3 linked regions of the Homo sapiens genome follow. The protein of the gene in region 1 interacts with the protein of each later gene in a biochemical or structural test. Each region holds a gene or a part of one and is shown on either strand. Other genes may lie near its edges. The genes, in order: LIN7A, KCNJ12 and PALS2.

Region 1 (7,686 bases):
CACTCTCAGATAAACAAGTATTATTTCTCTTATAATTGGGCAGGTGGAAACCAGTGATATCAATATTGTGAATGGCAGATGCTGCTTCCTCTAGAAAAATAAAATAAAATCACCAACTTTAATATATTCCCATAGGTAAATAGACAATGAGATATCATTTTTCAGAAAATATCATTCACTGGAAAATAATCTGTTATAACTACATTTACAGGTCATAATTTTTGGTTTATGGTAAATCTAGGCACCTAAGTCTGATTTTACTTTATGAAATAAATAGGAAGCAATAATTGTTTGGGCATTTGAATACCTTAAGCACATAAATGAACCTAAGAAAAGAATAATTGCTTAGTTGAAGTATTCAAAATAGATCAGTAAACCACAGGCAAATATTTGAATGTTCCCTTTTCTCAAATACAGAAATTGATTCCCCAAGATACAATACAATTTGACACTTCAGATAATCCCCCAAAATAGAAATGTATGAAGCTCAGTTTAGACTGTCTTCTTGAAAATAAAACAAAACCAATCAAAACTACCCAGCACATTTTATTATGCCCTGTTGGGTGATAGTATTGTCAATACCAGGTTTTCCCTGCTCTTCACAATGCATCCCTCACCAGAGGAAAAACAGCAAGAAAACTAGGACATTTGCTAATTTCAACAATACACCCCTGTGATAACAGATTCCCATCCTTGAATACATATCATTTTTTACTAGAGAGAACGGGGGTGGTGAGGTGGGGGCAGTTAGGACCCTGTATGTTATGTAAAATAGATTTACAAAAAGGACAAGCATGATAAAAGGGAATGAATGGAGACGATGTATTATTCAGTTTGAAAGAGATAGTTCACATTTTTATAAGAAAAATTTAATAAAACATATATTTTAGTTATCATTTAACAAAGATATATTAAAGCTATTCAGGCAATGCCACAGGATTCTCATGAAGGGAAATCACTGAACCCTTGTCATGAGAAAATGGTCATTTCAACACATTTCAATACATTGTATAAATTTGGAGCTTAAGGTGAGTGAGTATGTTTTCACTTAGTCATAAATGTTTGGTCAAAATTAAAGTTATCATATGGTTTCACATCAATACAAATATTGTCACAGTGTTACAGAAACAACTATCAAATGGTAAGATAGTTTACATTTGTGTTTTCTAGAAACCTTTGTATTTATGCTTCATTTGGTTAATGTTAAGTGCTGATAAAGGCATACCAGATTGTTTGTCAAAGTAAAGAAGCAATCCATCACACCTAGGACATCTAAGGATGGATTATACGTCAGAGTGGTCTCATATACAAATGACCATTTTCCTTCAGTAAAATCTTGTTGGTTGAAATGTAAGTCTTTTCCTAAAGTTTTAATCAGAGGTAGCCATCACTAAGACTTAAGCCACCTGTGGTTCTCTTAAGTTTCACTGAAGCCAGAAGAAGGAAATTACCACAACTTGTATTATACTAATTATCTTCATTATTAACGATCATATTAGAGCCACTGACATGTCCCAAATTATATTAAAATAAAAACCTGCATTGCTCTGACATGAAGCTCAATTCAATGTAATAAACAAATTAGGTATTAAACGTTATAATTTAAAAAACTTCTACGATATCACCAGAAATCCTGGTGAAATTTAATTTTTTCCCTTTTTTAGGTCAGTGGCCGGTGGGATAGATTTTTCTAAACTTTTTCCTGCTATGATTTTGAAGGCAAATACATAGAGCACAGTTCAGTAAAAGAGTTTCCAAGCCTTTTCACTGGAGCATTTACATTTTGATTCTGTTGTCATTTGAAATAGAACATCTGCAGGGAGATAATGAGCTTAAGTTACAATTGACTTTGGAAAGAATAACAGACTTTTGTGTTTCCTCAATCATGTAGTCAATAGGGAATTCTCCAGTTATGTGAACAATCACAGTCTTTTAAGACAATACTTAGATCTAAATGCAAAATCTAGCATGCAGAGGCTTTTTAAGGATTTTAGACTGTCTCCAAAGAACTTGGCTCGAGATGGATTACACAGATTTACAAATGCAGTTTTCAACTGTGACATCAAACTGATCTTATCTCATTTCATGTTACTCAACTGTGCCCGTAGGACCCCAAGAGGTGGAATATTTTGTCTACATTATTTTAAACATCTATAGATATGTGTGGATGTGTGAATAATGCCTAAATTTCTCATCTTTTAACTAGTTTGTTTTTATCATACAGACACAGCCTGTTCATAAGACCAGCTTTAGACAACTTAGAACTCAATGCTCTGAAGATTCAGGGAGGCCAACATAGAAAAAGATCTTCCAAAATATGGGGTGGTCCAACCCATCTCATCCCTCTCTAGCTGGAAAACTATAGAGAAAGGGCTGTGACTGCCTTGACCACTGCCTGGCACAATGTAGGCACTCGGTATTTGTTGGATGAATAAGTGGCTGAATCAGTGAATAGACAAAAAACATGGATTTTGCCTTCTGAAAATCTCACAAATTTTACCAGCTTATATTATACTGATTGTCACTATGATTTCTAAGTTTCATGGTTAGAACCATATTTTGAGTCTATATAAAAACTTTTTAGATGTATGAATTTGAAATTTCATTAATTACTTTAAAGGCTTCAAAGATTTGAGGACATTTGAACAGTGGATAAGGAACAATGTTTGGGGATACAGAGTTTTTATGCTGAGTTGAACTCAACCTTTCTAGTTCTTTATACAAGCTTCCTGAATTATCTGGCAGGAATGATTCAAACATAAAACCCCATTTTTAAATTTTATAAAAGATATTTTCATTTTTATATAAAAAGATCATCAGGCATATTATCCCCTTTGATATTTATTAACAACCATTCTCTAAGAAATTCATAATAATTGGAGACACCATCCCTAAATCTCTTCCTATTTTCAAAAGATCATTTATCCTTTCATATTTGATTCCTGGAATACACTAAGCTGAAGTTTAATCACATACTTACTCAGATGTTTCCATGTGTTTATTCATTTAACAAATACTTATTGTGTACCTAGTGCATGCTAGGTTCTGGAAATGCAACAGCAAACAAGACAGACACAATCCCTCTTGGAGGTTACTGTGAGAAACTCTCCAACATTTACTCTAGCAATAACTAGAGAGTTTACTGTCCATTGGGTCCTCTTCACACCTGATAGAAAAAATAAAATTCCTCACCCCATGGAAGTCATGAAATACTCCCTGCACAGATTTGTGTGAGCTTGCTTTTCTAAAACCACTGCTCAAAAATGCTGCTTAGTTTATCTATAAACCACGGTTATACCCCAGTGAGGTAGGTAAGTAATTTATTCATAACTAACATTTATGCAGCTCTATTTTCTAGCCACTGTGCTGAGTGCTTTTATGGACTATCTCACCAAATCCCTTCAACAACTCTATTCAGTAGGTTCCATTTTATAGATACAAAAACTGAAGCACAGATATATTATGTGACTTGTCCAAGGTCACACAGCTAGCAGGTGGAACTGGGATTTGAACCCATGCAATCTGACACAAGAGTTCATGTGTCTAATCATTATCTGTGGTTTGGGGGACACCATTACATTAAAATGAATGAGTCACTAAGTGAGTCACTGTATATAAAATACTTGGAAATTGTAAAGTAATATACAAAAGATATTAACAAAGTATTATTCATGGTAAACAAATCACATCAGTAGCAAACACAGGGTGGGAACTCAATCTTATGTTATAGCTTACTCTTAAGAAGAATATGTGAAGCCAGGAACATGGTTAAAGGTACAGACCAGAAAATTTCTGACATGTGATAAATATTTCAGTGACTTTTCAGATTTATTTCTTGTTAGCCGCTGTGTCTATTTGGTGCTACAAAAACTGAAAGAAACAAAATCCCTGATGTAAGGGCTTATAATAAATACACAGTTTGGAGATGAACTAAGGATATTTTACATTTACGGGAAAGGATTGGACAATAGTATCATTTTCTCACCATTTGCATGTACATCATGTCTTTCCAATTGTTTTCATTATTTTTCTGAAAGAGCTGCAAAATTGTGCAGTGGTTCAACCTGACCAAAGTGGTATTATGCTGCTGGGAAGTAAAAGTATTAGACACCAAACTGGAAGTATTGTTTTCATTATCAAATGACTTTAAGTTCTTTTAAAGCATGGATGTAAAAGAATTTTTAGATACTGAAGACACCTCAATATTGGGATGCTAAGTTTCTTGGGTTTCTCCATTCTTGACCACACAGTGGTGTCATTCTATTGAGGGCTTAGATTCTGTAAAGGAAAAGACAAATTTTTTTTTTTTTTGCTTTCTAGTCTCAAACTCAACATAGAACACTTCTGTGACCAAATGTAAAGGTTTCCCCACCCCCCCACCCCATCAATTTTCCAAGCAGGTACCAAATGGATGTCCTATAATTCAATTCAATTCTGAAACTATTTACTTGAAGATGGTGTAGATTCCACAGATTGAGGGCTCAGTCTCACAACACTTAGCCTACTTAAGATGCCAATTGCAAGTAGTAGGTTGTCACCTGTCCTTTGACTGGCTGGAGACTGAGATTCTCACAAGCCCTTCTTTGGGTTCAGCTGGGACAGCTCACAAAACTGAGGAAAACACCTACTTAGTTTACTGGTTTATTATAAAATGAATCATAAAGGGAATTTTTACCCAGTTCAAATTATATGGTCATGTAGTTACCAGAAACCTATATTCAAGAATGTTTATCAGTGTCCTTTCCATCCTTTCACAAACCTCTTTGAAGACACAAATATTCTAGGATTTTGCTTGCTTGTGAAGTTTTCAGAAACTGCATCAGAATTAAGCAATTAACTGTGGAAATGACTTAAGATAGGCATAAGGACACAATCCACAAGGAAATTTGGTTATATCTGTGGCCTACAATAATTTAACATATTAACCATAATTATGAGTGATAGTCTATACCCAGACATATCAGAATTTTAGGAGTCCCATACAATTTTGGAACATATATTAATAACATATTTATGAAATACAACTCAAAGAAGGTTAAACATCATTTCGTATTTGATAAGGCTTCCCATGTAATTTAATACATCAAATAATTCTATTTCTCTCGCTTTTGGAAGCTGCAGGGACCTTCTCTAGCATCCTAACTTTAGAGGTCAAAAAAAAAAAAAGACTTAATTATGAAGATGAAATTTGATTTTAGGAAACCTGTCAAATATGTGTTTTAAAACACTTAACCAAAATAGAATCACAGGCCACTGTAAAATAATGATCATCCATGTAGCCAAAATAATAATTTAAAGATTTTGAAAAAAAGCAAAAACCTTTACTCTTTGAGAGAAGACCCGGTTTCCCAAACAATCAAAATACCTGAGAGATAGAGCATGAGATGGAATATGTCTCTCTCTCATCACTGTTTCTTATTTTTTGCTTTTTACTCAAAAGGTGAACAAAAACATTTTACTGACATATTAACACTACAAAAAATTTTTGTTCAAAAGAGAAAACCAAATTTTACTTTTGGATTAGTATATTATCAACACTAAAGCTAATTTTAATAAAACCTTATAAATCTATCAGATCTGTCATCTTATAGCCACACAATATTTTCATACACACTTTTTTGTTTTACATTTTCTAGCTCTTCCAAACTCTCTATATTCATTTAGTTTTACCTATTTCGTATTCAATTTGAAATTTTTAAGAAACTTCTACACTAGACAAAATTATTTTTATGTCAACACACACCTTTATGCCTTTACAACTTTCCTCACCAAAAGCGTATCTTGCTTTTGTTTATACATTCTGTATAAATAATTGTTTTTTTCATATCTAGTAGTTTTAATTACATTAACTCCAATTTTAACTCTCAGTAACCCTAATTTCTAGTGAAAATATTAGGAAGAAATTTTGAACTGTTTTATATCAGTATTTATAGATAAAAAGAAGTTTATAGTTTTTTAGAAAGACATTTTCCTAAATTATTGTTAACAGATCTAAATATATTTAGCTTTTCTATACTGTATAAAAATAATATGTCAAGGTATATAGACTTAAACTCATGCCTGATAACTAATATTTCAGTATTTTACCTTATTTAAAAATGACTCAGGCATTTTATGACTATTAATTTAACAAAAGTTGACTTTAAAATTTTAAATTACTGAAAATAATTTTGAAACTGTTACCAGGGGTCCTTGCTCCCAGAGCTCCCAAGATGGTGGTGGGCCACTTCCAAGATGGTGGCAAGACTCGTGTTCTCTGACCTGGGGTTCTTGGCCTCACGGATTCCAAGGAATGGAATCTTGGGCCATGCAGTAAGTGTTATAGCTCTATTAGAAGTTGTGGGTCATGGAAGAGAACCGTGGAACCCAGTGACTAGTGTTCAGCTGGATTAGGATGAACCCAGGCACTTAGCCATGCAGGAACAATGGCAAGCCTTTAACCCAATCGGGAGTGGCAATGGGCACCTTGCTGGATCAGGAGCACAGCGGGCACCCTGCTGGATCCAGAGGGATGGAAGTCAGTGGCGGGTCTGTGACAGCGGCAAAACAGCAGTGGTGGATGGTGAGCGAAAGCTCAGCTGGAGCCGTAACAAACATGGACCAGAAGAGTGCAGTTGCAAGATTTAATAGAGTGAAATAGAGTGAAAACAGAGCTCCCATACAAGGAGGGGACCCAAAGAGGGTTGCCGATGCTGGCTGCAATGCCTGGGTTTATATGCGGATCCTTGTCCCTCCCGCTGGGCTCTCAGGCAATAAATGATTGGCTATTTCTTTACCTCCTGTTTTTGCCTAATTAGCATTTTAGTGAGCTCTCTGATTGGTTGGGTGTGAACTAAGTTGCAAGCCCCATGTTTAAAGGTGAATGTGGTCACCTTCCCAGCTAGGCTTAGGGATTCTTAGTCAGCCTAGGAAATCCAGCTAGTCCTGTCTCTCCAAACTATAGCACAAATACCCTACCCAATGTCTTTCCTAGTCATCCTGGGTTCCAGATAGCCACGTGGCACCCAAGAGGACTATGAAAAGCAGGGCTTGAGTCCTGTATTTATATACCAGGTATTGAGGTCAGGATAAAAGACAGAGCCAGGGAGAAAATGTTTGGAGGATGGAAACCCTCCCAGAATAGCCAGGAGGCAAAGCTGAGACAAAGAAGAAGGGTCCATAGTGGGCCTGTCTCTGTCTTATAGCTGCTGGTCTAGGTACTGAGAACATGTCCCCATGCCTCACAATGACCACCTACTCAGACTCTCAAATCCAGAGGCTCAACCAAAAACACAAGCTTGCAGTCAAATCAAGCAAGTACTGAATTATATTTAACTGATAATTTTGAAGCCATTCCTATTTTACCAACAATTTTTAAAACTAGCTTTTTTTCTTTTTTTTTTTTTACCAAATATTATCACATACACATAATGTATACGGACATACAAACACAGATAGAAGCAGATCTTACAGCTTTTATAAAGGATTCTCATTTGTCAGACTCTAAGTGGATTTCCCCCCTTCAGCCTATCAATCTTCCAATTACCTGTTTCATTGTTCTAAGCAGTTGTTAAGTAGGCACCAAAGTGGTATTTCTAAAGGCACAATTCTTACGTGAAACAAGATTTGTATTTCAAAAGCACAGAGCTAAAAGTTTAGGCCTACATATTGTATCATTTGCTCAAACCAAGGAAAAACTGGTGTAAG
Region 2 (12,009 bases), on another chromosome or scaffold:
TAAACAGAGTCGTGCAACAGGCCCCACGCTGCCTTTTGATTCTTTTTTTCTCTGTGTGTGTTGGGGGGACAGTGTGTTTTGGACAGTTCACACTGCTGTCAGAACTGGCAGATCGACCTTTCTATTTCAGTCAGGCCCAACTCAGAGGGGCCCCGGGCCAAGGACTGGAGCCCTGCCCCCATGAGGAAGGAGGGTCATGGGGCTGGTGCTGGGGCAGAGGCCCTATCTGTGGAGTGATGGCCCCACGTGGGGACAGGGAGGAGGCAGGCAGTGCCCACCAGGGTAGAGAGGGGCTGATAATTGGCTGGATTATCCCGGCGGGGAGGCCTCCTTGGGGAAGCTATTTTTAACTCTGAGAGATGCTGCAGCCACTTCCCTCCCTCTCTTTATTGCCCTTTATTCCTGGGGCCTGCAGGCTTTGCCCGCCTTCCTGGAAGCTCTGTCCCTTTAGAGGCAGGGAGGGATGAAACGCTCCCCTCACATACCATAGAGTGTGGTCCCCACATGGTTCTGGCAGGGTTCTCATGCGCCCCTTTTTAGAGAAGGAGAGAGAGCTTCAGAAAGCTTGAGGGGCATTTTGGAGGACTTGCTGGTCTTTTTACGTCTATTGCCTTCCCGGCAGCCCCTTGAGGCTGTTAGAAATTTCCTAAATTAACAAAGGGGTGGTTTTGGCTTACAATAAAAAGCCCATGGGTGGATCTAAGGGGCTCAAAAGACCAGCCCAGAACCTTGTTTCTCTCAATATCTCAGCTTTGCTTTCTCTGGGTGGGTCTCATTTCATGCAGGCTCACCCTACCTGGGGGCAAAGGTGTCCCCGGGGCCCCTGGCCAGCCCCAAAGCCCTGGGAAATACAGCTCCTGCTTTCCTGCAGACCCAGCAAAAGTCCTAGGGCTGATTCTCATTGGCTGGCTTCAATCATGTGTCCATCTCTGTACCATTGCTGTGATGCTCACAGCCAGACCTGGGTCGCTCACCCACCCCTGGGCCCTGGGGGTGCCCCAGGCCCACAGGAAACATATGGTGGAGGGTATGGTATAGGAGTAGGGAGACCCCAAGAACAAGGCTCTCAGAAGAGCAGCTTGGACATGGGAGGACTTGGACCAGTGTCCAGCATGCCTCTAAGTCTCTCAGCCAGACAGAAACCCTGACACCTAGGTCTGCCCAGGAGATGCCAGATGGAGCATGGCTAAACGTCCTGGCCTCAACCTTGGCCCTGGTGGCTGCCCTCCTGGCCACAGTTAGTGCATCCTCCTCCCAGCTGCTCCTCCCGCAGAGGGCGGGGCCACGGGAGTGCCGGAGCCTGCACACGGGAAATAAGTCAACCGGTCAGCTCCAGGCCCAGCTGATCAATGCCTGCCTCCTGATGGGGCAGGAGGGACTCAGTGTCCTGTTTCCAGGGCCGCCAACCGTTCCTGAAGTTCTGTGTGCCTCAGATCAATGCTGCAGGGTCAGCCAGGGGCCCAAGGGCACCTGGGCAGGGGGAGGGGCGTGTGTGCATGCACGTGCGCGTGTGGGTGTGACTGTGTCCTGGGTCTGGGCCATGTCCCCACAATGCTCCTGGGGGCAGCCACGTCCTCTTGGGCAAGTGCTTCTACCCACCTGGGCGTCATTTCTCCGTCCATCTGCCTGTGGCCTGTGGCGCAGGTTGGCATTTAGCCTGGAGCCTAATGCATGGCAAGTGCGTGGTGGGCATTGGCCCTTGTCACTTTTGCTGTTGTTAGTATCATCAAAGTGTCTAGTGACAAAAGGTGTTTAGGGAAGAGACTGGGCTGAGGGCAGGGCTGCTAGAACTGGTCTCTGCTCTGTGGCTCACTGCCTGAGGGACAGAGCCTCTTTCCACCTTGTCCAGCCAGGGTGTGGATCTGGCTCAGGTGGAAAGCAACCCCACCAGAAGAGCATATCCTGGAACCGACCAGCACAGGTCCTCCTGCTGGCCTTATGGTGGGTGGGGGTGGGAGGCCAGGTGAGACCCAGACCCTGGCCGCCTGCCTGGAGGAGGGGGCAAGGCTTGTGCTGACAGACAGCCTGTGATTGCAGGGGCCAGCGCGGCTCGGTGATGGTGCAGGTGGAGTTGGGAGTGGCTGTGAGAGCCAAGCTGCGCAGAGCAGGGTGAGAGAATCCCTCATGGATGAGACGTTCCTGAGTCGGGTCTGTGAGCACTCGTTTTGCACTCACTGCATGCCCTCAGCATGTGAGGTCCTGGGCTGCAGACACGCCTGAAGGACATGCTTCTGCCCTCATGGAGGTGCCATGCTGGTGGGGGGACCACAGTGAGCCAGACACCTCAGAGAGTGGCCAGCTAGGGAAGAAAGCAAGCTGAGCACAGCAGGTGCGTCCTGGTGGTCGGCAGGCCCCTCACGGATGTGCCGTCACAGCTACCCTTGCACGTGAGGCAGTTCAGAGAGACAGCGTTCCTGACTGAGGGGGAGGCAGGCCCCAAGGTCCAGTGACAGAATCAGGCTACTGGTGCCCAAGGGCCTGAATGGCCAGTGTGTTCAGAAAAGAGTGGCTGAGAGGGGGAGGGTGTCTGGGGCCTCAGGGACTTTGGCTATCACTCCTAGAAAGGTTAAACTGGGCATGCTGAGAGCTCATTTTACATTTTGATGGTGGGAAGACGTGAGGGCCAAAGCCGGGCCAAGGTCTAGGGTGGGCAGGGGAAGTCTCAGTGGGCTCTTGGGAGGAGGCATCTTGGAGGGGAGGAGATGCTGGGACTCTGGGGAGCACTGGTTGCAGCTGCCTGCAGGGCGAGCAAAGCCGCTGGGGAAGGGCCGTCTGGTTTCACATCTCACTCGGTGATGGACTTATGCCTCCCACAAGCGCATCGGCATTGTGGCATCAAGATGTGATTACCACAAGAGCTGGCAGCTGCTGTCGAGAGGCTGCAGCTCTGGGGCTCCTACACACAGGGCAGCGAAACCAGCCTTCGGGACACCTGCCCTGGACAGCTCAGTGGTCATCGTAGCAACCTTCCCTCTCTGGGCCTTGCTTTCCTCAAAACAAAGCCATGATTCCAAATGAGCCGAGGAGCTCTTCTGTCTCCTGGGCCTGTGGCTCCAGGGACACTCAGATATGCAAAGGCGTCTTGAACAGCCAACACGCCCACCCAAAGCTGGGAGAGACTGGGCTGCAAACAAGCCTCAGTCTCACCCCTGTCTTGGAGAAGCTCCCATCCTGGAGGGGAAGAAAGAATCTGGGATCAAGGGAAAGCCAGGTGCAGGGCACAAAATTCAGGGTGTTGGGAAGGTGTGTGCGTGGTGGGACAGCTGACTGCTGTTCATCTCCCTGGCTTCTCCCATGGCTGTGCCAGGAAAGTTACTACTCTCATGGCCTCGGCTGTCACGATCACCCCCATTTTACAGAGAGGGAAGTGGGGCCTTAGCAGGGGACGTGTCCCAGGTCTCCTGCTGGGCAGCGTTGGTACTGGGCTCAGTCCATTTGGCCTCACCCAGCCACTCTCGACACTGCCCCCTCCACACTGTAGGGGCAGGATGTCCTCTGCTCAGGCTTCACGCAGCACCCCGGGAGGGCCGTGAGCCCCTCTGCCCACGTGGGGATCCCTGGGGCAGATGTGTGAGCTGCTTAGGGAGAGATCTGCCCACATCCCTGCCTCTTTGTGTCCCAGCCCCTCCTGGAGGGAGGCTGGTGCCCAGTGGCGTGGCAGAGGGGATTTGCTTTGAGGGGCCCTTAATGGCTGCTCATGGGTTGCAATTACAATTAAGAATTGAACTCTGACCCTGCACGTGGGTTGGGAGGGTGGGACGTGGAGCCCAAGGGAGTGGCCCAGGGAGTCAGGCTTGCGTCTCTGCTGGGTGACCTTGGGCAAGACGCTTGCCCTCTTTGTGAAATGGGTCTGATAATGGCTCTGGGAGTGGGGATAGGGAGGGGCGGAGACCTGGCCTGACTCACAGTAGTCATCTTGGGTGTCGAGCCCCTGGGCAGGGGCCCTGTGTGTGTGTGTGTGGGAAGGGGGGGGTGGTGTTCCAGGCGTGAGGATGCCCTGGGCACAGCCACTTGTCCCAGGAGCTGTCAGAATCTTAGACCCAGAGGAGCCCTGAGGTGTTCCCGTCCATTCCCTTGCCCCTTTCTAGGCCACCAGAGTAAGGCCTCGAGGGAGGGATGTCTCAGGCCCCATTCCTCTTGGGACAGCTGAGTGGTCTCTGAGGGTGGGAGCTGGTTTGAGGCTTCTTCCGCAGCTGGCTTGGGCTTCCCCATCTGGGAAATGGAGCAGGGGCAGGTGGGGAGCTGAGTCATTTCCCTCCTTGGTCACTCGGAGGGAGAAGAAGGAAGTTTCCTGAGAGCTTTTGGTCCCCTGGGAGGCTGTTTCTCCCAGGAGGAGGAGGAAACCAGGACACAGTGTGCCAGGCAGGGCAGGGTGGGGGCTGCAGACTTCTGCGATGCCCCTTCTTTCTCCACTGCAGCCCTAAGTTGAGGACACACCTGATTCTGCGTACTGGCTCCACCATCTGGTAGTTCTGTAATTAAGCAAGTGACCACCCCTCTGTGCCTCAGTTCCTTCATCTGTAAAATGGAGCCAATGAGCTTATCCACCACAGATGGCCGCAGTGGTAATGAAATAATTCTAGCTGGGTCCATAGCACAGAGCTCAGAACATATTGAGTGCTCCGCCTGGCTGTTTTACCAGCCAAGTCAAGTGCTAAGCACTTTAGGTAGACTCATCTCATTTAATCCTTGCTACAGCCCCATGAGTGTAGTGATTTCTACTGACAACAGGGAAACAGAGGCACTGAGTGGTGAAGTGACCTGTCCCACAGCTAGTCAGTTGAGGTGGGATTCAAACCCAGGGCAGACTGATGTCGGTGAGTGCTGGGCTGGATTTCACCCACCAGCTGCCTGGGGCCAGGATCCTAGGGCTGGTGGGGCCTGCAGATCACTCTGCTCTGAGCCGCCAGCAATCTGGGTGCGGGCCAGAGAGCCGTCCTCCTCGGTTAGAATCCTGCAGCCAGTCTCCCTGCTGTGCAGACACATAATTATATTTCACATTAAAGGGGAAGCTGGAGGCCAAGGGGGCCAAGGAGCCCTTTGAGGCTCATGCTCTGGGCACAGACTGGCCTCCTCGGCCCAATTCTGAGGCCCTAGGGCCGAGCTGGGGGTCAGACTGGTGACAAAATGGAGTTCCCCTGGGTCAGTGTCCAGGCGAGCAGGTCTGTCTGCCAGGATGAAAGACTTGGCCCCTGCGGGAGGCTCAGAGATATGAGGCCCAGACAATAGGCCTCAGAAAGCTGGGAGGGCAGGGCATTTGGGGACAGGTTGGGAAGAAAGCCTGAGCCTCCAGAGACAGGGGCTCGAAAGAGAAGGGGGTCACATGGGGATCCGGTCGGCAGAGAGAGGTCCAGGGAGGAGCACAGAGAAGGCAGGAGATGGGAGAAGCCAAGCAGCTCAAGATGGAGAGGAGAAAAATGCTATTAGGGTGGGATGGTGTGTGTAGAGGGTGCGTGCCTGGTGTGCAGGGGAAAAGGGCTCTGTGGGAATGCACAAGCTTAGACCTGTGTGTGCGTATGCACACGTGCAGATGCCATCCTGCATGTGCACATATGAGCGAGTGTGCACATGTGCCCCTGCGAACATCATGCATGTGGGGGCATGTATCCTGCATGTTTATGCCTGTGTGTGTGCTCGCCATGCACCTGTGCGTGCGCGCGTGTCCCCGGCGGACGTGCCTGCATGTGTGTGTATGTGTGTGTGCGCGCATGTCCCCGGGAAGTCGTGCCTGTGTGTGTGTGTGTGTGTGTGTGTGTGTGTGTGTATATATATATGTGTGTGTGCGCGCGCGCGTCCCAGTGCGCAAGTGGCTGGCGGTGTGTGTGTAGGGGGCGGCCCGGGACTAGGAGGGGCTCGGGGCCAGGCCGGAGCCGTGGTAGGCTGGTGCAGCGGCTGCGCGGCGCGGCGCGGCGCGGGGCGGGCGTGCTCTCCGCGGAGAGTTAGAGGAGTTGCCGAGCTGAGCTCCGGTGGAGCGAGGCGCGGAGCTGGGTGCGCGCCGAGCCTCTGCCTCCCGCCGCCTCCTCGCCCTCCATTCCTCGCTCCCCGTCTTCTCCCGGCCACACCGCCACTGCTGCCGCCTCCCTGGGAACAGTAGCCGGGGGAGGGGGACTGGCGCGGTCAGAGCCTGCGAGGAGGTGCGGGGCGCCGGGGCGTAGGGGAGCGCGCCGGGCCCTGCCCGAGATCAGATAACAGCCGGCGGGGGAGGGGGTGGGCCGGCCGTGCTCACAGCCGGACCGAGGGACCGACGCCAGCCGCCCCGGCCCAAGCGAGCGCCCAGCGGCCGGGGGCGCCGTCCAGGCGCGCGCCCCCGACCCGTGGCTGGACCAGGGCGATCCGCTTTGCAGAGAAGACGCGCCCCTCGGCATGGAGCGCCCCCGGGAGCTGCCCTGAGGCGGTGGCGGCAGCGGCGGCGATGCAGCCAGCGCGGCAGCTGCCGGGGCCAGGAACGGCCGCCCGGAGCTTGGAGGACGCCGAGCGCGCCGCGCCCGGGCCACTGACCGAGGTAAGTGCGCGGCCGCGGGCGCATGGTCCCTCCCGGGCCCGGCCCCAGTTCCCCGCAGGCCGCGCCTCGCCACTAGCCCGGCCCGGAGCTAGCACGAGGTTGTGCAGCAACAGGGAAGGTGGAGCGGGAGGGTGTTTTCTTCCTCTCGTTTTATTTTTTTCCCTCCCTTGGTGAGACATCGGAGGAAATGCTGACTGCGAGCTTTTCTTTTCCTGCCATGTCTCCGGCTACCACCACAAGGAACTTTGCTCCTGGCTAACCTTCGTCCTGGGGGGCGCTCCGGGAAACTTTGAGGAGCCCTCGGCCCCCCTCTGACTGGTTTGCACTAGGGGGCTCGGGAGGGAGCGTGCGGAAGCACTCTGGCGCGCGGCACGGGTCCTACGCGTGACCTTCCCGGAGACCCCGCGATCGAGGTGGGGTTCGGAGGTGGGCGCCCGGGCTATATGAGCCGCCCCGAGAATGCCTCCCGTCAGAGACCTGCGGGTTCTTGGAGTCGTGTCTCTTTCTCACCTCCCGTGCTGTAATGGAGTAAAAATATTCTGGAAATGATTCCATGCCAGCAAGTCAGCCAAGTCCAGAGGCTCCCTTTTGCTTTTAGAAGTCGGCCTTGATCTCCGAGGGGATGGCCGCTGGCTGAGAAGCTCCCAGGGTTTCAGGGCCAGGGTCCACCCTGCGCGCGCACGGCCTCTCCGGGTGCCCTGGGGGAGCGGGGCGGGAATCAGGGGCTCATGGGCAGAGACAGCTGGGGTGGGGCGCTCCTTGGGGGGTTCAGATGGGAGTTGAGGCCCAAGCGAGTGTCTGTGCCTCGGTTTTGATCCAGCGTGCCCATGTCATGTGAATATTTTAAAACCTGTGATCAGAATGGGGGTCAAAGTGTTTCTTTGGGGACGGTCTTGTTCTGGGAGGTTTTCCTGCCTCCTCACAGCCTGGACTCGCCCGCACCTGGGACCTCCCCCTCCCCATTTCCCAGGGGGCGTTCCCATCTTAGAGTACCGCGCTGCCTGTGGCCATTTCTAGTTTCTTTTTTGCTCCCCTATACCCAGGTTCGAGCCCTGCAATAAAGCGCTGGGGACCTCCTGGCTCCCACATCTGCGCCCCAAACCCAGGTTCACAGGCTCCGTCTCCGAGAGCGCCGAGGCGCCCACACGCCACTGAAATCGGCAGCCGCCTTTGGAAGGTGCGAACCCGGAAGGCGTTAGCCTTGGGCCTAGCCTTCGCCCCCTCTGAGATGCCAAAGGAGAGCCGGTCCCTGGCCGCGCGGCTGGACCCCAGCCTCCCTCGCGCTGCGCTGCACCTCCGCGGCCCCTCCTCGCGCAGCTCCGCCCTGGACCGCCGCCCTGTGGCGGGCGAGGGTCAGAGAGGGGAGGTCCATCTCAGCCCTGGGCGCCACCAGAGGCTTTCGCTCTTTTTGAGGGGTACTCCCTTCTGTATTCTGAGAAGAGCCCCTCAGTGTCTGCTGGGACCGCCCCCCCCAACAAAAGACTTCACAGCGAAGTCTGCCCCTCAGTTCTCTGGTGGCACCTCCAACCAGACAGGGGACCCGAGGTTGGCAGCTCTAGGAGGGGGACCCTGGGGGCCTGCCATTTGGTGGGGCCAAGCCGCCTGAGAGAGAGCAGGGAGTGAGGGCGGAGGGCACTCACTCGAGCACCCTGGAGACGAGGAGGGTGGCTCCAGTGTGCTGGGCCACAGGGACACCCCTCTTCTCCACTGGAGGGCCGCTGTAGGCATACAGTAGGCAGTCTGTAAATGCTGGCTGTTGACCCAGAGCTGGCAGGTAGGGGCTCCAAGTCCTCTATCACCTCCTTTTTCCCCTCCCAGGGGAGGGCATGGCTGACACCCCTCATCCCCAGCACTGAAGGGGGTGGAGCCTTCTCTGGGAGGGGCAGGACCTGAGCTGTCAGTCCATCTCTGGACACTCCCCCTGCAGCTACCCCGTCAAAACCCCATAAGGTTTCCAGGCTGCCCCGGAGGGGACCCCTCCAGGAATGTGCCTCAACTGTGCTGGAAGGAAGAGGTGCCTGGGAAGTGGTGGAGGGGTATTGCCTAAAACCATGCAGTGGGTTGGGTTTGGACAGATGCCTTCACCTAGCTCTTTCCAGGCCAGGCGCTTACCCCACCAGCCTTCCTGCCCCAGGGCCATGGTGTCCCCATCCCTGGGTCTCCTTGAAGCAGGACAAAGTAACACTGAGTGGCCCTGCAACAGCAAAATAATAATGACAGCAGTGATAACAGGAGTAACAGCAGCAGCAGCACCTGCAGCTCTGCAGCACTGGGGCCGGTTCTGCCTATGGGCAGTTTTCTCTGCCTAGCCAGGCCTCCGGTACCCTGGGCCACAGTTGGCAGTACCAAGCGTGGCACCCGGAGGCCTTGGCATATGGCTGGGGCGGAAGTGAGTGCATCATTACTGTCATCAACCTCTGTGGCCCTCGCCAGGTCCCCAGGCAGAAGGCTACTGGTACACACGGTGCCCACCCAGTGGCCACCCTCACCCCCCCTGCTCCCAGGCCCAGCTCTGGGCTGGGCCCTTCCTCCAACAGGTGCAGCTGGTGCCTGTGGCTGGGCCCTGGCCAGGGCTTTACTGTGAGCGACACATGGGTACACCTGCCCCTCCCCGGGCCTGCCCTTGGAGCCCTGCCACCGGCTAGCGTGGAGGAGAGTCAGGGAGGGGGCAGCTTGCGGGCAGCAGGAGGGGTGGAGGCTTGGCTGGCCACATGGAAGGTGCGGTGGGTGGGGGCTCAGCCCCACGGGATGGCTGTGCCGGGAACTGGCAGCGTGATGGGGACACGGCAGCAGGGAAAGGCTGAAGATGAAAGAGAGCTGGCCTGAAACTGGGCCGTGTGCAGGTTGGCCAGAGCTTCAGAGGCACCATGGGGTTGGGGGTGGGGGGGGGCCTGGCAGAGGCAGGTGGGTTTTCTGAGGTGCTGGGCTCGGGGCAGGACCAGAGCCCCCGCTGGGCACTGGCCAAGGACCCAGCCCTGGGTCAGCTGACTTAATTTCCTAATGGCCTGCCAGTGCAGAGGGTGGCATTAGCTCTATTGTGCAGACAGGGATTGGAGGCCCAGGGAGGCACTGGAGGCACCAGCCTGTGGGGCTCAGACCCAGAGCCCTGGTGCTTTCCCAGGGACAGAACTGCACCTTCCCCCATTCCACAGACACACCCCTCAGGGGCATTTGACTGCCAGGCTAGCTTTCTCCCTGCCTTACCACCAGGCAGGTCCCACACAGGGCCTGAGGCCTGCATGCCATCCCAGCTCCCGGGAGCTGTATTCCTAGGACCTAGTTAAGCCCTGGCACAGAGTAGGTGCCCAGTAAATGCTCGATGATTCCATGTCTGGACTGCTTCTTCCAGCCACAGAGGCCTTGCTGTGCTGGTGAGAGCTGTGGGGGCTGAGTTCTGGGGCTGGAGACCCCAGGCCCTGTTGCCTAGCTGTGGCCCCTGTGCTGGGTAGCCATACAGAAGTGCTTAATCAATGGGCATTGCATACGGGGAGACCCAGCCCCTGCCCTCAGGGATCTCACTATCTCAGAGGAGACTCTTGGACAGACTCAGGGGGGCAAGAGAGGCAGATGTTGCCACCAAGATGGGGTCACTCTTCCTGGCCTCAGTTCATCATCTGTGAAGTGGGACTGGCTCCGGAGAGTGCTCAGGATGGGGCAGTAGGAATGTGAGACTTGGAGCGTGCCTCTGGGAGTTGGGGGTGGGGAGGGGCTGGTCTCAGTAGAAATGGACGTGTGGAGAGGGGGATCTGGGAAGGAGGGGGTGTGAGCATTTGTGGAGCCAGAGCCTGGGGAACTCGTCATTTCCCCATCCAACCTTCCCTTGGACATGTAGGGAAGCAGGCCCAGGGCAGGGCAGCGAGTTGCTGTAGCAGTGGGCCCCAGATGGCAGTGGGCCCCAGATGGCAGTGGGCCCCAGATGGCAGTGGGCCCCAGATGGCAGTGGGCCCCAGTGCAGGCCTCCTGTTTCCTGGTGTGTCCTCAGTGTCCCCTAACCCCAATCACCACCACTGGTGCTCCACAGCTCACTCCTTCCTGCCTGGCTGCTGAAGTGGCAGCATGAGGCTGTGGAGACCTTGGGGACCCCCGCCCAGCCCTCTAATTAGCCTTCAGCCATGCATCATTGGACATGGTTCCATTTGCTTGGCCAGATAGGAGTGGGAACCCCTTTCTCAGCTGCCCCAGGGAGCAGTTCCGCCTTGGCTGTGCATTAATGCTGTCCTAGGGTCAGTGGGCACAGCCTCCTGGATCCTGCCTGACTCCCCCTGCCCACCTGGACTGAGCCCTCCCTCCTGCTTGGGCAGCCAAAGCCTCCCTCTCCTGCCCTCACCTGCAGCCCAGGCCTCTTTGAAGGACTCAGGCTTGGAGAGGGGCCAGGGAACAAACAATAAAGCTTATGGAGTGGAGGCTTCTACCAGAGCCACTCTGGGCCATTGTTCCTTGAGCACTTTCTATGTGCCTGGTGCACTCTGGGTGTCAGGGCCCTCTGTCGATTCCCACCACACTCCTCCCTGGGACCCTCAGGGCCCTGCACAGTCTGGCCTCACTTCCAGGACTCTTGCTCCCTCCCCGGGGCCACGCTCCTGCTTGCCTTGCTGTGCTTCCAACAGATCAGGCCCACTCCTACCTCAGGGCCTTTGCACATGCTGCTATCTCTGCCTGGAATGTTCTTTCCCAGATCTCTGCACGGCCCCTCCCTTACCGCTTTCATGTCTTGCCCAGATGCCACCCTCTCTCCAGGACCTCCCCTGATTCCCCTGTGGGACACTGCAGCCTCCCTTTCCCCCATGTTCCTTTTCCTGCTTTATTTTTCTCTGTAGAACTTAATGCTATCTGCCACAATATATTTTATTTGCTGATCTTGTTTACTGTCTATCTTTCCCTTGGAATAGGATCTCCTCTTTTTGGACCTATTCTACCACAGCTGTGTCCCCAGTGCCTAAGCGGTAGGCAGGAGATGGCAGGCGCCCAGTAAACACAGAGAGTGAATGGGCTGCTTCAGCCAGGCCTGGTGCCTGACATGCAGTGAGTGCTTGGTAGCAATGGTAGCCAGCATTGTCAGCCCATTCTGCAGATGAGAAAACTGAGCCTCAGAGAGGTCACTGTCCAAGAACTGTGGCGCTTGTTGGTGGACAGAGCTGGATTCTGACCTTTTCTCTGAGCCTTTGGCCTGCCATCTGTCTGTCTGGCTGAGTGGGAGGGAGTTGGGGCTTCCTTCAGGCCCCTACTCTGGGTGGAGTGCTTTATATCTGTACCCTCACTGCTTCAAGCTCCAAGCCCTGTTGTGTCCTCTAGCACTTGGCCTGCTTCAGCTCAGGATGTCCCCATCTGATTCCTTCTGAGGATCACAAGCCGTTCCCATTGCAGATCCCAGCAAACTGAGGCCTGGGGCGTGGGGCCTCTCATATCTCAGCTGATGGCTGAATCCTTTCTCCTGCCTTCAGCATACATGTTTGGAGGGCGGCTGAGGGGATGGGGCTGGCAGGGAGGGGACAGTGTCTCTGTTTCTT
Region 3 (12,539 bases), on another chromosome or scaffold:
AGTGTCTTCATAATTATTTACCTAACTATATCATTTAATAATATACAGGTTGAGCATCCCTAATCTGAAAATCTGAAACTTCCTCAATGCCAACATGATGCTACAAGTGAAAAATTCCACATATAAGTACTTAACACAAATGTTATTTTATGCATAAAATTATTTTAAATATCATATAAAATTACCTCAGACTATGTGTATAAGGTGTATGTGAAACATAAATAAATTTCATGTTCAGACTTGGGTCCCATCCCCAAGATATCTCATTACGTATTTGCAAATATTCCCAAATCCCAAAAAATCTGAAATCTGAAACACTTTTGGTCCCAAGCATTTCAGATAATGGATCGTCAACTTGTATTGATTAGACTGTGACTTAGCATTTCATAAAGGTATAGCTTCTGCCCCAAATAAATCATCTATAAGTCAGAACTCTATTGGTGACAAGTGATGGAAACTCAACTCAAATTATCTTAAATTTAAAAAGGTCTCATGAATTTATGTAACCAGAAAAGTCTAGAATTAAGGCTGGCCTCAGGCATGACTAAATCTTCCCTTTTTTGAGATTCTCAAAGTGTTGATTTGAAAAGAGAAAAAAAAAACAAATTATCTTTCTTCCTACTGCAGTACAGAAAAATCCAAAATTTTCTTTATTTAGGTAACATGTCTACTTCTTGCACTAATCCCTATGGCTGAAGGGATGGGGCACTCTTATTGGCCAGGCCTGGGTCACATGGCCACTCTTGTAATTTAAGAATATGGGGAGGATATGGTGATTAGTAGTCCCACCAGAATCTAATGCAAAATAGATAGCCTTTCCACAAATGCTACATTGTTAAAATACACACATACAGTAAGTCTGTAGATCGTGGTGGTGAATCTGAGTTAAATAACATGCTACAGAGAACCTCTAATTGTAGTAACTCGTACTATAATTCATTCCAGTTGAATTGACCTGAAAGTTACAAAGCACTCTGTGTATGAAGTGTGGGAATGAGCAGGAGTTTTGCAGCAGAGCTTCTTTAAACACTTCCTGGTTCTGAAGCCTGAGCCATTAACTCCTCTTCACTTGTTTTCTCATCTGAAAAATGGGAGTAATAGTAATGATCCCCATGGGATGCTCCATATGAAGGTTATACACCAGTGTCTGCCACACAGGCATGAGCTCAATAGATAGTTGTCATTCGCTATTATTACCAAAGCAGGATTTTTTAAAAAGACTTGGTCTTTCATATTTATAAACAGCTGATATTTTAAGGAAAAACTAAATGCCCTGTACTTCCTAGCATGAAGATGGCATTGCTTTAAAATGGGCCATTAACTTCCCAGATTGTTAACAGCCAAAACAGCTTGCCATGGCTGCCCCGACTCATACACATACACCCCGACTTCCATCATTGCTTCCACGTCCCTTATCCTATCCATCTTTCATTCATTTATTTACCAAAAATGTCTTAAGAGCCTACTATGCATCTTAATGACTTGCTCTTACCCTCACGACTTCTCCTCAGTCCTTTGGAGGAGCATCGGCCTCACAGTTTGACCCTTTGTTTTTATGTTTAATCACCATTGACACCCTTTTTGCCTGTCATGCCAGAAGATTCTTCCAGAAGACCTCCACTGCCCTCCAGGACTTCGTGCCTGTCTGTGTTTTCAATGGGGAAAGGTACACACTATACTGACACTATATATTTTTACAAATTTTTAAGAAAGGTTTTTCCTGTTTTCCTATGTCTTTTTAATCTTCTTTTTGATACTTGAGTAGAAGGATTTTTTTTTCAGTTCATATATATAATGGGAGAGGTAGAATTTAGAGGCCGATTTTAAATGAGTATCTAAAAGGGTTAATTACATATAGATGCTGGCTCCTGGTGAGATAAAGTCAAGCTCAATTAAGGTCACTGCTTGAAATCTGATTGTCTTTCTAAGAGCTTTTCATCTGTAACTTGCATATTCTGGAACAAGTGTTCAATTGTAATTAGCAACATTTTTCACTTAATTTTATTTAATTTTAGAAGTCTACCAACTAACAGGTTTATCTGTTTCAATAAATGAGCAGCTACTATGTGCAGTACTATGCCAAGTGCTACAGGCATTCCTGTACACATCACCCTGGATTTTACCTGCAAGAAAGAAGGGGATGGGGCTGAGTGGCGGTAAAAAGAATGCAAAGATAAATATTTGAAAACATAAATGATGCTTTTATGAAGCAGAATAGGAAAGGAGCCATAAGATGCAATTAAAGTGCTACAGGAGTTCAAAGGAGAGCAATTACACTAGTCCCTTCTTATCCAAGAGGGCATCCATTCCAAGCCCCCCAGTGAATACCTGAAACCATGGATAGTACTGCACTGTACATATTTTATATATATATATATATATATATATATATGTACTATGGTTTGTAGACATACATACCTATGATAAAGTTTTTAATTTATACATTAGGCACGTTAAGAGATTAACAATAACTAATAATAAAATAGAACAATTATAACAATATACCTTCATAAAAGTTACGTGAACATAGTGTCTCTCTTTCTCAAAATATCTTATCATACTGTACTGAGGAAAACTGAAACCTTGGAAAGTGAAACCATGAATAAGGGGGGACTGGGGGACTACTGTACCTCTGTTTGAGGTGAGGCAGAAAGGGTTTCATGGAAAAGGAGGGTGTGAGATGAGCACACATGCTTGGATTTTGGCCAGCAGAGATGGCAGAAGGCAAAAACAGGGGTAGAAACATAAAGATACAAGATATGACTAACTAGAATATCCAAACAGGGAAGCTTTGACTGTCATTGTGAATGACCTTGTAAATGGGGTCCCGTAGGCAGTAAGGAGACAGGGATAAAATGACTGGCACCTGGCAGTCAGGGCAAGGAGGCCCTGAGGCAGGGAGATGAGTTAGGAGACTCTGTAGGACTAAAGCAAATAAACAAGAGAATCCATTCCTATAATTTTGAGAAAGTGGGCTGCAAGGGATTTGAGTATGTGTTTGTTCAGGAGATGGTAAAAGGAGGTAAAGGAAAGGAAGGTGCCAGAAAAACCAGCAGGAGCAACCCCGTGAATAGCTTATCTAGATGGAAATTTTCAACAGCGAGTTGAAAATATGCCTCAAGGGAGAATAGATACAGATGTGGAAGCATTGGTGCTAGAGTCCTAAGGATCCCTGGGATTCTCAAGATAAACAGTACTATCTGCTCTTTTTAAGTTTCTCCTCAAAAATTTATTTCATTCTTAGTGGAACATTTTTCTTTAGGAAGTAGGAGGAGATAACACAGCAAAGTAAGGGTCAGAGATGGAACAGTCAGAGAGGTCGAAAGAGCTCCCAGGTGGTATGGTATCAGAGAAGTTAAAGGAAAAGAGAGGTTTAGAGAGTGAGAGTACGAGAGATTAACCTCCTCAAACACTGCAGAGAAGTTCAATGGCATGAACACTAAGCAAAGACCTTCCCCACTAATTCTGTCATATACTATTAAGACACCTGGCATAGCACTTATTATGTAATATTTTGCTTATTATTCTTCGCCATTAGGTAGGGACTACTTGATATTGTTAATTTTTTTATTTTCATTATGCTTCACTAGTAAATGAGTGACTGAATGGATGAACACATGAATGAAAATGTTAATTGTGATGGAAATAGTAGTTTCAGCAGAGAAGTGGGTGTGGAAGCCCAATTCCAATGCCTAAAATAAACAAATAATGGTAAGAAAAGTCAAGGAGATATGCTGAGATATATAGTTTTCTTTTTTAAGGAAAAACCAAACAACCCCAAAACTCAAGTTCTTATAATGTTTGGCTTTAATTGTGATGATTAAAAAAAAAAAAAGAACTGCCATCGTATCAGGAAATGTTTTTTCAGACAGCTAGTTTAGAGGAGAAAGTTCTGCTAAGACATTTCTGTTTGAGACAGTTGACCCAGTGGGACTTTTGGAAAGATTTAGATTATAAGAAAAGCCTCTGACAAATATCTATGAAAGCAAGATTAAAACAATAATGTACACAATCAACTGAGGTCCAGCGGTTTGTAAACCAGTGCCAGTCGGGATGCTCAGAGCTGGGAACGGTGATCTTCAGGCAGCCAGGTGAGACTAATCTGGAGAAGCTTTAGGAAGGAGATAAATTTAAGCTGTTTTGAAAGGGGACTATTCTAGTCAATTGGCAAAGAGTCTTAAAGCACAGGATTAGGAATTTTAATTTGATTACTCGAGGTAATTTGGAGCTACCCCACTGTTGTGAAGATTTGGTATAAATGTTGTTTGGAAGATGATTCATTTCCATAGTTCTTAACTCTGGCTGCGTATTAGAGTTATCTGGAGAGCTCTGAAAAAATCCTGGCACCCAGGCTGTGCTCCAGAGCAATTAAGTCTGGGATGGCATCAAAGCATCAGTGCTTTGTTTTGTTTCTTAAAGTTCTCTGGGTGATTTCAATAAAGAGCCAAAAATTAAGAAGCACTGCTCTGAGTATAGGATAAATTGCAAGGAAGCAAGAGAGAGGCTAGAATTAGAAAGGTTAGCAAGGAGGCTGGAAATTGGAATCTGACCTAGCTTTGTGAGCAGAGATAAAAGGAGTGAAGCTAAATAAAGTATTCTGAAGGAAAACTTGGTTGGACTTTGTGATGCATGCCAGTTGCATTTTTAAATAAAGCTATCCTCCAGGAGTGTCACTGCTTTTACTATGATGGATTAGTTGAAAAACAAGTACACAGGATTTGCTTTTGCTAAAATTCGGGGCTATTAGCAAAATTCTCAATTTCTGTAGGAGCAAAGCAGGTCAGAAGAGAAAAGAAAATGTAATCACATTAAAAGTGTATGTTGTTTACATTTGAAGGAGGAAACAAAATTGAGTGATGGATGCTCCTGAATTAAGAATCAAAATTCAAATTTTAAATTGAATTACCGTTGGGAGATACTGGGCTGTGGTAAAATTATGATCCCTTTAGAGTAACCTTGAAGGAAATGAAAAGTCAGACTATTAAGGACACTGAAGAGAAAGATCCACCATCATTCTCAATCATATCATTCCCCTTTCTTGGAATGAAGAATTTGTAACCGGTATGGGAAATGGATGGTGGTGTCTCAGTATGATGACCTCTCAGAAAGCTGAGTTGGGAACCAATGATGGGAGTTCCAATGTTTAACTGAGAACACTTTAAATTTATCCTGGCATGTCCCACCTTTAAAGTTTAGAGGAAGGGCAGAATGTTATAAAATGGGAATATCATTTATAAAAGGAAATAGTGTTTCCTTTTATAACTGTATATGAGTATTTGATACAATACTCATCTGACACTGAGAGAGGAACTTCACCGGCAAGAGCTTTCTGAAGGGGAGCAATCAAAGACAGTTATTGGAGCAAAATCATTTTTCTGACTCTAAGAATGAAGCTGAGTCTTACGGCAGTGATAAGCCTCCATCTGATAGCTGCTGTCATTACTTAGAGCACAGACTTGGAACTGCAAATGAAAGATAATTGTTCCTGTATTCCTGCTCCCAAATGCTGGGTCTCTGGTAGATGCAGAGATAAAGCAGTTGGCCAGGAGTGGTGCCAGCTTTAAGTCAGGTAGGTCTGCATGTAATTTGAGGGGCAGAGCCTACCCCAAACCCTCCCTCCCTAAAACTTCCTCAGTTAACATCATTCTACTTGCAGGGAGCAGGGGTAGAGTAGGTTAGGACATTGTTTCCAGAAGACCCTTGAGGAAATAAAAGTGCACTATTAAGGATCACTAACATATCTGGAAATGACATTCATACCCTACCTCCCACCCCAACCCCAGAGAAGCTCAGGGCAAGTAACTAAGTGGCTGGGTCCAAGGGGATGTGTTAAGGTTAAGAGTCAGAAGGGAAAAGAGTTCACAAGCCTGGGTAGGGTACAGCAGGGAGGACCCATGGGTGTCCTGTGAGAAGCAAGTGGGCCTGGGGCAGCAAGAAGGACCTGAAAGGTCTTGCTGACACCCCGAGAAGACAAACCCCATCCTTCCGCTTTGTCTCTGCCTTGGGCTCCGAGCCCACTCCACTTCATTTCATCCAGCCATCCTGACTACAGGGGGCCCAAAGCTACTCTGTGCCCTGGGCACGTTTGAGTCTCCTTAAATGCTTCCAATTACCTTTGCCTGGGTTTGTGGTTCCAGGAAAGAAGGTTCTAAATTAACACTGTACAAGGCCCCCCTGCATGTTGGTTTGCAAAATTAATGATCCTAATGGAAAAGTAAATTAATCTTTGATGCTTGGTTGAGGATAAACACAAAAATCACTGTTTTGGACACTGGACCTTCTTAATACATCTCATCAATAGTATTTTCTCTCTCCCTTCCATGCCTGCCACATTCACAAAGAGAGGAGACAATACAACTTATAACTTCATCTCTGAATCCAAAGGGCCATGATGCACGCATTTATTCTGCAAACACTTATTAATGGTCTGGTTTGTGCAAGGTGCCCAAGAGAAGCCAGGAAAGGCTGCACAGAGGAGGCCACCTCATAACACTCCTCACACGTAAAGTTTGACTTGCACTTTCTACGTTCATGGTTTGAAAAGATTGCAGTAAGCATTTTGTAAAATGTAAATTACATTCTTCAATTTTAGGAAGAACACAATAGTTTTTCCAAAAGCCGCCTGTCACAGGTCTGAGGGTTCACAGAGCTCTTTTAAGGGGATCGGAAGTTCTCTGGCTGCCTTGCTATGTTTTTCTAGCCAGAAGTCTCTGCTGCAGTGCATTGCTCAGTTCCTTTCAACTGAAAAATTAAATCTGCACTTCTGTCAAAATGTGTCATCTACACATCCGGACACTCATCACAGTTCACCAAGCTCTACGCAGAGTCCAGGCTGAAAGGATGGCATGCCCTCCCCAACCCCACCCTTTTGAGGTCTGGGAAGCCCAGGTGCTGGGGAGGAGCTGAACAACTGTGTCCAGGGAGTGTCTGGCAAAGCCGACCCAGGGAGTTCCACGGGAGCCTCGGTGCTATGAAAAGAGCCAGTGTCCATGCATTTCCTCGGGTGTGAATCACACTGCCCGGTCGGGCCTTTGGGAAAAAATTAATGAAGGACACAGTCAGCGCCGTAGAACCTGCCAAATACACATCAGATCCAGTGGAGTCTGTGAAGGGGGAGGGGGAGATTTTTCCAGAGGCTTTTCTTCTCGTTCCATTTCTCTTTTGTGCCCCACGACTGGGTTCTTGAATGTAAAACTCTCAGAAAGGTCAGGGCGGAGCCTGTTTTATGCCCCGAGGAGTATCTTGCCCACCCGTAAATGCTGACAGACAGCTGCGACTTCGGCCCAGGAGACCCGGCGGGGACTGGGTCCGACCAGCCCTCTCTCGCGGGCGCAGGTCCGGGACCCCTGAAGCGAGCCGGCCGGGCGCAGAGCGCAGTCAGTCTGGGCGCTCAGAAGCTGGGAGGGGGCTCCACCTGGGCGCCCAGCCGCGGCGGGAGGGGCGGGGCCCGGCTTTCCGGAGGCGGTGGCACCTCCTCGCGCCCGAGCGCGCGCTCCCCGACGTCCGGCGCACGCGCGAGGCCGGCTGGGAGCGCGCCCAAGCGGCGGCGGCGGCGGCGGCTGGAGGAGGAGGAGGAGGAGGAGGAGGAGGAGGAGGGCGGCTGAGGCGCGGCTGGCTGCGCGCGCGGAGGCAGCGGCGGGGGCGACCGGAGCTGGGGCAGAGTGGGGAGCGAGGGAGGGGGAGGAGAGAGAGGGAGGCGGAGGGCAGTGAGAGACGCATTTCCAGTTCTCAACTACGAGCCACGAGTTTGCAGATGGGGCTGCTCGGCGGCGCCTGTGGCTGAGGGAGAGCAGCGGCGGCGGGGAGCGACCGGGAGCGGCGGCAGCGGCGGCGCGGAGGCGGCTGAGGTGCGAGCCGGTGAGTTAACTGGACCCCCACGCCGCTCGGGTAACGGTCGCGCCGCGCGCCGGGCCGGCCGGGGGCGCCCTGTTGCTCGGCGCGGCGCGCCACGCGGGGACCCTGGCCCGCCCCGCCCCCCTCGGCACCTGGGCTTCGGCGGGCGCGGGGAAGAGGGACCGGCAGGCGGCGGCGGCGGCGCCGCGGTCGGGGAGGCTGCTGGCCGCCCCCAGCCCGGCCCGCGCGGAAGGGGCGCTCGGCCGGGCTCCTGCCTCTCTGGCTGCGGGCGGCTGGGCGGGCCGGAGCTCGGCAACGTGTCTGGCCCATGCTGCTTGCCGCCGCTCCCCACGCGCTCCCCGGCGCGGCCCCGACTGGGGCTAGGGCCGCAGACGCGCGGGGCCCCTTCGGGCGCGGGGCTTGGGTGCCTACACCTCTGCGGCGGGAGTCGCGGTGGAGCCTGAATGGAGAGCCGGCCTGGGGGCGGCGTTGCTGTGACTGACACCTCCGGGGTCTGTCCCGAGAGGGGGTGATTCCGCCGGCTCCCGGTTCTCTCCCGAGCTCGGAGTTGGTAGGGGAGGAGGCTTTCTCCAACTACCGCCGCTACTTCCGAGGTACGAGACTCCAGTTGTTTGGCCAAAGTGGCTGTGGGCCGAGCACAGGCTGCCGCGGGGGCGTTCGCTGCTGAGATCGTGCTCGCGGATTCTCGGTACGTTTGTCTGAAACCAAATAGGTGCTGGGGCTTTTTTATTTTGGCTGGGTGGAGGGTCAGCAGGGGAGTCGATTGAGGTATCCGACCGTGTGGTGACAGGATGTGGATTGGTTGGTAGATGTTTTTTTGCAGAAGGACTTTTTAACACTTTACTGGGAGTTTATTCTCAATCCTACCAGTTTCTGGGATTGCAGCTCGAGATTACATTTGTTAAACTTCCATCAGTTGGGTGTGCATCTGTGTAGGGGGTGGGGGTGAAGCGAGGGAGAGAATTGAAGACTGCCGGGGAAGCTCAGAAAATTCTCCGCATTACTTATAAACAGCCGGGTAAGGTCAGGCTAGCCACGTTTTATTCTTTCCTACGCCTTTGGAGAGTGTTGGAATTTTACTTTGTGCTTCAAGTATATTACAAGTGGTCTTGTAGTGTAGCTGAGAACGTTTGGGGTGCGTTAAAATGCGTTTCAATTGGAGTATGATTTAGCAGCCATTTCTTCCCGTGAAATTTTGCAAATCATTTGTAAACTTATGTTGGTCGAATATACCAGGCGAAGTAACATTTTTAGTAATGCGGTATATAGTTTCCGTATATAGGTATAGCAACGGACCTCAAGTAATATTGCTTATTGTAGGCATCTACTGTGCAATGATAGGGTAGTGGGTAGTAGGCCTGATTATAGTTATGTCTTCTGAGGCCTTGTTAACAGTAAACAAAGAACTTTTGTGGGTTGTGTCATTTTGAGGTCATTTGTACCTTAAATCTATCATATATTTAAATAGGTGTTTAAATGCGTGTTTGCACGATGTGTTACTCTTTAAGGTCCATGTTTCCTTCATTCTGGACTACGGTTACATAATACACAAATGGTAACACTTTTAATTGCTCAATTTTGTCCTATGGAGACTGCACACCATCTTTATGAAAGAGGTGTGTATGTGTCCTTACTGATGCCACCGAATTCTTGACATCTGGAATGTCAAAATGAATTATTTTGCATTCTAGGTTAAATCAACACTGGAAAAATTAAGGTGTTTAAGCAAGTCTAGTAGCTCTATATAAGACAGAATCTTTTTTTTTCTTTAGGCCAACTGTTGGATTTTTAAAAATGAATCATATTTTTAAACATTTGAGGGAGCAGTTTGCTTCTGAGTCTCATTTTAGGCTGAAATTGTTCCAGAGCACTACATAGCCTGCTTCTCTCTTTCTCTCCCCACTCCCCCTCTTTTTAGCTTGAGATAACCAAGAAGACATAACTGTGACTCTATGTGTTATCTTTTTAAAAAGTTGTTTTAAAATTGAAGTTGCTTGTTTGAATATTTACTATCCCTTTACATGCTTTACTACTTAATAATGGATTAGCAGAATAAAACAGATATTTTAATTAAATGTCTTTCATATTTTTGACATCTGAGCTTTGTAAAAATGGAGTAGCATCATATTATTGCTGAGAGAGTTACAAATAATACAGGATTAGTGCTAGTCAAAGGCTAATTGTAAAAAAACAGCCAGAAAATAAAATTAAAAGAGGTAAGAGGACGCATTTATACTTTTGACATCACTCTAATATAAATTACCTATTGCTAGGTGACTTTTGAAAAAGAGTATCTTGTAAAATTCACATTAGGTATATAATAGTTAATAATTTTTCCTTCCAGAGTGATTCACTTGATGAGTGACTAGATTTTTTTTTTTTAAATCAGAACTCTACTTCAGGTAAGTATAGTTAACCATGTAAGTGATGTGCTGATGTTTATTTCAGGAAGAATGAACACTTACCCATTTGATAAATACTGAACTGTTTGGGAATATGTCAGTTATTCCTTAAAACTTAGGCGGAGAAAAATTATGCTAGTTTTGTTTTAACTGTAGGTTCTTTAGAAAAGTAGTCTTCACATTTATAAATATAAGAGCAGATAAGCACAAGAGATCTCTTTCCTGATATGGTGCTAGTATTGAATTAAAGATTTTATTTTTTTGTTGTAGGGACCAGTTTTGTTTAGTCTTCCTGTTCAGTCTCACAGAAGCTGCAATGATTTTCCTCCTTTTCTGTTACTTGTATCTGACCACTGGGGGGAGACTTTACAATTGGGCTTGACCATATTCCTTCTTTACATACATTGGCTGCTAATCCTGGGCACTTTGTCAAACTGCTGGGTAGTGTGCTGAGGAGGATGCACTCTGAAGCAAGTCTCAATCAAGGTGTTTAATGACTTTTCTTTCTTTAACTCACAGCATGCTTACAAAGTATCATTCTTTATAGACTGTGTTATTAACAGTCTACTGTTAAGTGGTCTAAGTATGCCTCTAACATAATGAAAGATAAGATTCCTGAATACATTATAGCTTTCAAAGATCCGACTTTACTTGCATTAATCTTAGAAGCAGTGTAGGTTTAATTGCTTGCTTAGAGTACACAGATATTAGTTGTCTGGAAGGATCTGGAAAGATCATCACTCTTCTGTGAAGTGTATCTATATCCAAACCCTTTAAACAAATTGGTCTCCTCTTATAAAAAGCTTTTGGAGGAGAAGATATTGAAGCATCCCATGTAGCTAATTTTAGTGTTCATTTCACCGCAGAGGGGAAGTTCTTCCTTTATCATAGTCATATAGATAAGATTAAAGCCCACAACTTTGTTAACCATTAAGCTGTGACCATTATTACCAGGTGTAATAAAGTCAAAAGCCTGGTTTCTACTTTTTCTTTTCTGACAGTATTTAACCTTGTTAATGTCCAATTCAATAATAATGAACTCAGTAAACAGAGGCTGCTACGTTTATAGTAGTTTAGAAAGAACTTAAGTTTTATGACCTTCCTTAATTATGATAGACTAATTCAAAGACCTTTCTATAATCTTTATCATAGTAAGTATATTCACAGAGTAATGAACAGAACAAAATTAGTTTCTATTTTTCCTTCATCCTAGGTTATTTTCCTTCTTTCCTTTAAGATGACTTTGCTTTCATCCGAAAATTCTTTTTTCCTTTTTTCCTTTTTTTTTTTTTTTAATATAGTGTACTAGAAGAGATACTTTCTGCTTAGGAATATATTCATCTCTGGCTAACTTTAGGATTGTGTTAAGTACTTGGGAATGGAAGTTTCTAAAAGCCTATCTGTCAGAGTTATCACTGATACAAGGCAAAATGAGAATTAAAGACAATATAATGAATATTTCATAAAGCTCAAGTTATTTTCAGATCCTTTCTACTGCTTGCTAGTTTTGTACATGATTTAATCCCTCCTTCACCAATTTACATCTTTTCCTCTTAAATCTATCATTTCTTTACCCTCTTCCTCCACTTTTTGCTATATTTCATCTACATTGCCCTTCATTTTGTTCCTCATCAATGCCATGGCTTGCTCCTAACTTAGGGCTTTTGCACTATGTTCACTCTGTTGGGAACTCTTCCTAAATCATTACATGAGTGACTACTTTTCATCATTTCATGTTGTAGTTCAAATATCATCTTTTCAGACAAGCATTGCTACCTAACCATCCTTCCAGAATGACACTAGCCTCATCCCCCTCAATCCCATTACCTTTTTTACTTAAAAATTTCTTCAAACCATTTATCAGTATCTGAAATTATGTTTTTATATTATTTTATAATCTCCATACTCACTAGAATATAAGCCCCGTGATATCAATGATCTTGTCTCTTTTTGTTTTTGTTTTTGAGATAGAATCTCACTCGGTCACCCCAGGCTGGAGTGCAGTGGTGTGTGTGATCACGGCTCACTGCAGCCTGGAACTCCTAGGCTCAAGTGATCCTCCCACCTCAGCCTCCTGGTAGCTAGGACTATAGGCAACAACTACCATGCCGAGCTAATTAAAAAAAAAAAATTCTGTAGAAATGGAGTCTTGCTGTGTGTGTTGCCCAGGCTGCTCTCAAACTCCTGATCTCAAGGGATTCTCTCGCCTCAGTGCCTCAAAGCACTGGGATCATAAGCATGAACCACCACACCCTGCTGATCTTGTCTCTTTTGATTAACACT

Evidence for each region.
Region 2: the proteins of LIN7A (region 1) and KCNJ12 form a complex in vitro, tested with the Homo sapiens proteins (2 studies listed by BioGRID and IntAct, with this or other methods).
Region 3: the proteins of LIN7A (region 1) and PALS2 form a complex in vitro, tested with the Homo sapiens proteins (one study listed by BioGRID).

The regions. Positions count from the first base shown.
Region 1 is NC_000012.12:80,788,949-80,796,634, reverse strand, and holds the end of LIN7A (protein lin-7 homolog A), read left to right. Parts: 3' UTR 1-4,115; downstream 4,116-7,686. UniProt on the Homo sapiens protein: Plays a role in establishing and maintaining the asymmetric distribution of channels and receptors at the plasma membrane of polarized cells.
Region 2 is NC_000017.11:21,370,412-21,382,420, forward strand, and holds the start of KCNJ12 (ATP-sensitive inward rectifier potassium channel 12), read left to right. Parts: upstream 1-5,945; 5' UTR 5,946-6,502; intron 6,503-6,508; exon of another isoform or gene 6,509-6,915; intron 6,916-12,009. UniProt on the Homo sapiens protein: Inward rectifying potassium channel that probably participates in controlling the resting membrane potential in electrically excitable cells. Probably participates in establishing action potential waveform and excitability of neuronal and muscle tissues.
Region 3 is NC_000007.14:24,565,737-24,578,275, forward strand, and holds the start of PALS2 (protein PALS2), read left to right. Parts: upstream 1-7,715; 5' UTR 7,716-7,857; intron 7,858-8,229; exon of another isoform or gene 8,230-8,542; intron 8,543-12,539.